Linked DNA regions of Homo sapiens. The protein of the gene in region 1 purifies or fractionates together with the protein of each later gene. This does not show direct contact. Each region holds a gene or a part of one and is shown in the gene's direction. Other genes may lie near its edges.

Region 1 (3,974 bases):
TAATTTTTGTATTTTTTGTACAGACAAGGTTTTGCCCTGTTGAACTCCTGGGCTCAAGTGATCCACTCGCCTCAGCCTCCACCCTTAGTTTTAATCAAAAGTTATATTATCAAAAATTAAAAGACTTGTCTAGGGTAATTTTAAAGACTAATAGTTCTCAACCAGAGCAGTTTTGCCCCCGCCTTTCCCCAGATGTTTGTGGTTGTCACACCTGGAGGTGCTGCTGGCAGGGAGTGGGTAGAGGCTGGGGATGCCGCTCAGCACCCTGCGGTGCCCAGGAGGCGCCTGCCGCAGACAGCAGTCAGGCCCCGAACATCCACACCTCCAAGGGAGGAAATACTGCTGGCTGGAATGATCCTGCCTCACTGAGTGCTGAGGGAGACACCAGCCCGCCGCCCTTAGGGCCCTGGTGAGGGGCGATGGCGGCGGCATGATTCACTCCTCTCAGTTCTAGGCACGGGCGCGGAGGTGGATTACCTGGAGCAGTTTGGAACTTCCTCGGTAGGTACCAGGCAATTCCGCGAAGCCTCACCCACAGGGTGTCCGAGAGCAGCCACGGCAGGTCTTGCCCCCGGAGCGTCCCTTGGTGCCCACGTCCCCCCAGCTGCACACAGGCCCAGGCATTGTGGCGGGCTGTGAATCCAGGGCCCCTTCTGCAGCACCTCCTCTAAGTGGTGTCCTGTGGCAGGGCTCTAGGGCTCTCTACCTGGTGCCTAGCCCAGGATGAAACTCTGACACGCTGTGCTGCTGGGAATGGTGGTGTCTCGGGCAGGGTTGTGGGTGACCGGGGGTGGGAGTGTGCGGGTGACCGGGGGTGGGAGTGTGCAGGTGACCTCCCTGGCCCTTAGCCCCCGTGTGTGTTAGGGGATGGCAGTCAGACCTGATCACTTGCCCTCTTGTCCCCAGTTTAAGGAGTCGGCCTTGAGGAAGCAGTCCTTATACCTCAAGTTCGACCCCCTCCTGAGGGACAGTCCTGGTAGACCAGTGCCCGTGGCCACCGAGACCAGCAGGTATGTGCGCCGGCCCTCCCTCATGCATGAAGCCTTGAGTGTGGGAAGACTGGAGGCTGTTCCTAGGTGTGCTGTCTGCACAGAGGCTTCTAGACCGGGGGGAGATGATCAGAACTGGAAAGGAGCTGTGCTAGGGGTGGGCTGGGCAGCAAGGCCAGAGCAGCCCTTGTGTGTCTGGCAGGAGCAACGGCAGCCTACCCTCCAGCCACAGGGCTGCTGCCTTGCTGGTTACAGCCACCGTTCTAGGTATATTAAAGATCTAAACTTAAATCTTTTAAGAGTACTTCCTCTAAAACAGAGGTCGGCAGGCCAGGCGCGGTGGCTTACGCCTGTAATCCCAGCACTTTGGGAGGCCGAGGTGGATGGATAGCCTCAGCTCAGGAGTTTGCCACCAGCCTGGGCAACATGTTGAAACCCCGTCTCTACTAAAATACAAAAATTAGCCGGGTGTGACGGCATGCACCTGTAGTCTCAGCTACTTGGGAAGCCGAGGCAGGAGAATTGCTTGAACCCAGGAGGCGGAGGTTGCAGTGAGCTGAGATTGCGCCACTGCACTCCAGCCTGGGCAACAGAGTGAGACTCCATCTCAAAAAAAAAAAAAAAAAAAAAAACCAAAAAATAGAGGTCAGCAAACTATCACCTGTGGGCCAGACTTGGCCACTGCCTGTTTGTGTAAAGTTTTATCGTCACAGAGCCATGCCCGTTCCTTTGCAAATTGTGGCAACTTTCACACTACAAGGCCAGAACTGAGTAGTGTGACAGAGGCTGTGTGGCCTTCAAATCCTAACACATGGCCGGGCGCAGTGGCTCACACCTGGAATCCCAGCCCTTTGGGAGGCTGAGGCGGGTGGATCGCCTGAGGTCAGGAGTTTGAGACCAGCCTGGCCAACATAGTGAACCCCCATCTCTACTAAAAATAACAAAAATTAGCCGGGTGAGGCGGCAGGCGCCTGTAATCCCAGCTACTTGGGTTGCTGAAGCAGGAGAATCGGGTGAGCCTGGGAGGCAGGGGTTGCAGGGAGCCGAGATCATGCCACTGCACTCCAATCTGGGTGACAGAGTGAGACCCTGTCTCGGAAAAAGAAAAAAAAAAAGGCTCTGAGCTGTGAACAGCCCCCTGATGAGGCAGCACTGGCTCCGCTCAGCCTGCAGTGGGTAATGAAGCGTCACCGTGCTCTCCCGGAAGGACAAGCAGCCACGTGGGATGGGCAGGTGAGGGAGGGGGGCACGGAGCAGCAGAGAGGCCGGGCATGCTGGATGCGGGTCTGCGTTTTCTACCACTACCCTGACTTGAGTGGTTTTAAACTAAAAAGCAAAGAGCCCGGTTAGCTTGTCCACATGGTCCTCTGTGTCCTACTCAACACTGGGAGGGCCTAGTGACTGAGGCTGCCTCTGCTTGGTGGCAGCATGCACGGTGCAAATGAGACTCCCTCAGGACGTCCGCGGGAAGCCAAGCTTGTGGAGTTCGATTTCTTGGGAGCACTGGACATTCCTGTAAGTCCTTGAGTCCCTCTTGAACTGTCTTGTGTGTGGTCTGAGGGAACGAGTTGTTTTAAGGGCCTATATTTTCTATTCCTGGGGGTCTGAGCCTTTGGTTTTGTTGGGGGCATGGGGCCGCTGTGCTGTTCCCTCGCCGCACTGTCTCGGGTCCCTCATGCACTGTCTGAGGCTCTTGGCCTGTGTGGGCCTTTCCTCCCTCACACTAGGTCAGAGGTAAGAGGCAAGGGCGAAATGGGTTCCTGTTTCATCCCCATCTCCCGCAGGTGCCAGGCCCACCCCCAGGTGTTCCCGCGCCTGGGGGCCCACCCCTGTCCACCGGACCTATAGTGGACCTGCTCCAGTACAGCCAGAAGGACCTGGATGCAGTGGTAAGGACGCAGGTAGTAGCTATTCCACAGAACCTGCAGGCCGCTCTGGGGCTTGGCCAACAGTGGGCAGGGGTCCAACAGCCTGACCCGCCATCCCTGCCATCCCTGCCCCTGCTGGTTGGGGTGGAATTGCAGAGAGCTGCCGGCCCCTGGCCTGTCACTACTGCCCAGGTCGCTGAGGGTCCAGGCTTCCACCCAGTGTCCCCGCAGTCAGCTGCCCACCAGCAGCCTCCCCGGGACTCTCCGGCCTGGGCATGGCGTTGGCCTCTGGTGGCCTTGCAGCAGTGAGTGTGGTTCTTGCTGCCGTGAGCCCGAGTGTCGCCCCTTTCCTCCCGCCCTCCCACGAGTCCAGACGCATCTCCTGGCAGCTTAGGAAGCTCCATCTTCACCCACCCCACATCTGAGGGTCCCGTGCCTTGTCTCCCTCCATCCTCACTGTACATGCCAGGCTTCAGCCTGTTCTAACTCCGGGCCTAAATTGTCCCTAAGAGAGCTGTAGGCACACAAAGGGGCTGGGTGTCTGCAGGCACCACTGTGAGCTACCGTCGCCAGATGGTCCCCAGGGAGGTGCAGACAGGGTGGTTCCGGAGGCCGGCTGGCAGGGCTGGGTTCAAGCCCCAACATCCACACCAGTGTTGTTCACAGTGGCCCCAGGTGTCATCTCCGCAGAGGCCTGTGATGTGGCCCTGACCCCGTACCCCAACAACCTCCTTCCCTGTGTCAGAGCCCGTGTGAGTAACCCAATAGCAGGCCTGGGGACCACAGTGTGGCTGGCCCCCTCCTCTGCAGGCCTGGGCTCCGGGGGCAGGTGGCCCCTGCATGTAACTTATGTTAGAAATGCACAATGCTTGTTCTCTGGTGCCACAAAGAAATAGTGCTCGAACATTAATTTTCTCAGCAAGGCAGTTTTTACTTTCTGCAGAAAGGGTGCCCCTCGCAGATGGAGCAATGGCAAGAGCACACCTGAACAAGGGAGGGGAAGGGGTTCTTATTCCTGACACAGGTAGCCCTACTGCTGTGTTGTTCCCCTGTTGGCTAAGGTTGGACCACACAGTCTAAGCCAATTCCAATTGGCTATTTTAAAGAGGGCAGGGTA
Region 2 (3,500 bases), on another chromosome or scaffold:
TTTTGGCAGCGGAGACAGACAAATATTGTGTTGGGCAGGGGTCACTGCTATGAAATGTGCAGCAGGGGATGAAAAGGAGAGAAGCGTTTCCAGCTAAGGGAGTGAGGGACGGCTTCTTGGAAGGGGTGACATCTAAGGAGAGACCTGAAAGTGGGGAGAGGCTAGGCCTGAGGAAGAAGCAGCACACAGGCCCGAGGCAGGAATGTGTCTGGCCTGCGGGAAGAGCAGCATGGGGGTAGGAGGTCTAGGGTCTGGAACAGAGTCCCCAAGGGACAGTGGAGCGGGAAGAAATGAGATCTGAGGACACACAGATCACGGAGGCCCTGGAGAGAACTTGGCATTGATTCCGTAGGAGCCTGGAGCCTTCAAGAAGAAGAAGAGACATCCCACCTTGTAGGTTTTTGTTAGTTTGTTTTGTTTTTTAGAGATGGGGGGTCTCACTGTGTTGCCCAGGCTGGTCTTGAACTTCTGGACTAAAGCAATCCTCCCGCCTCGGCCTCTCAAAGTGCTGGGATTACAGGCATGAGCCACCGTTCCCCGCCCCACCTCGTGTTTTAACAGGATCCTTCTGTTACAATGGGTATAGTGTTCCCTGGAGAGGGGCAAGACCACCCCTTGGTCACCCAGCAGGCGCCCTGTTCTCCGGCCAGTCCAGAGCCTCAGTAGGGCAGGGCTGCCTGGGAGAGCAAAGTGCAGCCAGGGCGGGGCAGCAGCAGCCCCGGGCTCCTGGCCAGAGTCGGCCCTGGGTGTGGGTGGCAGGTGTGGGTGAGGCCGAGGCCTTAACCCTGCCTTGCCAGGGGCAGCAGGAGCCAGAAACAGCCCCCGAGGCTGTGTTTGTCTGGAAAGGGCACCTGGTGTTTGGGTGGGGCCCACACAGTTCCCGGTGGTTAAGGCTTGGAAGCCTGAATTCACATCTTCACTCTATTCCTCAGTAGCTGTGTGACTGTGGGCAAGTCACTCAACCTCTCTGGGCCTCTAGTCCTCACCTGCAAAATTAGAATGAGTGGCTCTCTGGATAAGCTGCAGTGAGAATAAAATGAGTGACTTTGGGGGAGGGGCTTAAGGCCCCTGATCCACCTGAAATGCCTAGTAAGAGGGAGATGGCACAATTAGGTAAATTTGAGGGTCCCTACCCCAGGTCCCTACCCACAGCTGAGTCTGCCTAGGGACTTTCCCTGCCCTGACTTCCCAGCATCAGTGTCACACCCAGCCCCCAGCCCTCCTAGAGACAGAGGCTTTGCGGGGGGTGTCTAATTTCTGTCCCCGGAAACCTCTGACCACCAACTTCCCCATTTCAGGAAAAAGCCTGGTGTGGGTGGGGTGGGGAGGAGACCAGTGCTTCCCCTTCCCCTGTGTGACCTTGGGCAAGTCACTTCCTGTTTGAGTTCCTGTCTAGGCCTGAGTTTCCTCACTGGGGGAGAGGGGATTGAACCTCCCAGAGGGGCTGGTGGGAGGGTCCCGAGGGTTGTAGCTGTCCCGGGCCCCAGTGGTGCCCATGAGAGGGATGTTGACAGTTACTGAGCTCTCGGCGTGTGCTGGACGCTGTACCAAGCACTTAGCTTTTTTTCTTTTTTTTGAAACAGAGTTTCACTCTGTCGCCCAGGCTGGAGTGCAATGGCGTGATCTCAGCTCACTGCGGCCTCCACCTCCTGGGTTCAAGCGATTCTCCTGCGTCAGCCTCCTGAGTAGCTCAGACTACAGGTGCACACCACCACGCCCAGCTAATCTTTGTACGTTTTTGTAGAGACGGGATTTCACCATGTTGCCCAGGCTGGTCTCGAACACCTGAGCTCAAGCGATCCATTCACCTCAGCTTCCCAACATGCTGTAATTACAGGCGTGAGCCACCACACCCGGCTGTACCAAGCCCTTTAGGTGCCCAGATTCATGTGCCCCTCCCCCACTGCCCTGGAGGTGGGGACTGTCATTTTCCCAGTTCACAGGCAAGAAGAGGTCTTGAGTGGGAAGGTCATGTGCCTGAGTCACATGAAGTAGGTGGCTCAGTGGGGATTTGAACCCAGGTCTGGGGATATCAGCTCCTGAACTCTGCACCAGTTTACTGACACCTCCCACCCAGGCTAAGTCAGACGTTGCCTTTTCCAGGAAGTCCTGCCTGACTCTCCAGGCTGGGGCAGGCGTTCCTTCAGGGTACCCCCAGACCCTGGGCTCCTTGGTCCTAAACCTGGGTTGGTACCGTCTGGGGACAGCTGTGTCTCCCACACTGGACTGTGAGCCCCAGGAGGGTGGTGCCGGAGCTGTCTGGGTCACTGCTGTGTCTTCATCCCCAGCCCCACCCAATATAGGCCAGACACAGAGCAGGGAGTATCTGGGGAATGGCCGCTAGTGCCCTGGGGAGCCAGGCGAGGGGTGGGCAGCGGGAAGTCCCTTTGGAGGAAGAGCTCAGAGGTCTGGGATGGGTCCCCAACCTGCTGCAGGCCTCACACTTCCCCTCCCAAGCCTCAGCTTCTTCCTGAGCAGGCAGTGGTGGAGGGGGGTGCGTAGAGATAGGGAAACTGAGGTCAGGCAGGGGCTGGTCCCTAGTGCAGCTCTGGGCTCTTGGCCTCCTTCTGGCCCCTCTGTCTTCCCTCCTGCCCTCTGCTCTGCTAACCCGCATCCCCCCACTGGCATTGGCCTCGGCCTCTTACACCCCTCAGCCTGTCTCTCCATCTTTATCTTTTCCTTCTTATTAGTTTTGTTGTGTTGTGTTTTTTATTTTTCATTAAAAAAGTTTTTTTGTGGACTGGGTGTGGTGGCTCACCCCTGTAATCCCAGCACTTTGTGGGGCTGAGGCAAATGGATCACTTGAGCCCAGGAGTTCGAGACCAGTCTGGCCAACATGGTGAAACCTCGTCTCTACTAAAAATACAAAAAATTAGCTGGGCTTGGTGGTGCATGCCTGTGATTCCAGCTACTCAGGAGGCTGAGGCGGAGAATGGCTTGAACCTGGGAGGCAGAGGTTGCGGTGAGCCGAGGACAGCCCGGGTGACAGAGTAAGACTCTGTCTCAAAAAAAAAAAAAAAAAAAAAAAGATTAGTCGGGTGTGGTGGTGCATGCTTGTAGTCCCAGCTACTTGGGAGGCTGAAGTGGGAGGATCGCTTGAGCTCAGGAGGTCGAGGCCACATTCCAACCTGGGTGACAGAGAGCAAGACTCTGTCTCAAAAACAAAAATAAAAATAATAATAATAATTATTATTATTAGAGATGGGGTCTCACTATGTTGCCCAGGCTGCTCTGAAATGCTTGGGCTCAAGTGATCCTCCTGCCTCAACCTCCAAAGTGCTGGGATTACAGGTGTGAGACACCACGCCAAGACCATCTTTATCTCTTTCTGTGTCTGCCTCTTCCTCCAGGTCCCCTGTCTGCCCATCCTTTTTCCCCACCCCTCCCCCATCTGTTCATCTGTCTGTCTGCCTTCAGTCTGTCTCTCCTCTTTGTCAACCCGACTCTCCCTTTCCCACCTCTCTCTGCGTCTGTCTCTTGCATCTCGTTTGTGTGTTTGC

The links. The genes of interacting proteins can lie anywhere in the genome.
Region 2: the proteins of TACC3 (region 1) and VASP purify together in Homo sapiens (co-immunoprecipitation; 3 studies listed by BioGRID and IntAct, with this or other methods). This does not show direct contact.

The regions. Positions count from the first base shown.
Region 1 is NC_000004.12:1,734,825-1,738,798, forward strand, and holds part of TACC3 (transforming acidic coiled-coil-containing protein 3), read left to right. Parts: intron 1-448; coding exon 449-501; intron 502-906; coding exon 907-1,010; intron 1,011-2,416; coding exon 2,417-2,504; intron 2,505-2,773; coding exon 2,774-2,878; coding exon of another isoform or gene 2,879-2,890; intron 2,891-3,523; coding exon of another isoform or gene 3,524-3,568; exon of another isoform or gene 3,569-3,974. UniProt on the Homo sapiens protein: Plays a role in the microtubule-dependent coupling of the nucleus and the centrosome. Involved in the processes that regulate centrosome-mediated interkinetic nuclear migration (INM) of neural progenitors.
Region 2 is NC_000019.10:45,513,979-45,517,478, forward strand, and holds part of VASP (vasodilator-stimulated phosphoprotein), read left to right. Parts: intron 1-3,500. UniProt on the Homo sapiens protein: Ena/VASP proteins are actin-associated proteins involved in a range of processes dependent on cytoskeleton remodeling and cell polarity such as axon guidance, lamellipodial and filopodial dynamics, platelet activation and cell migration.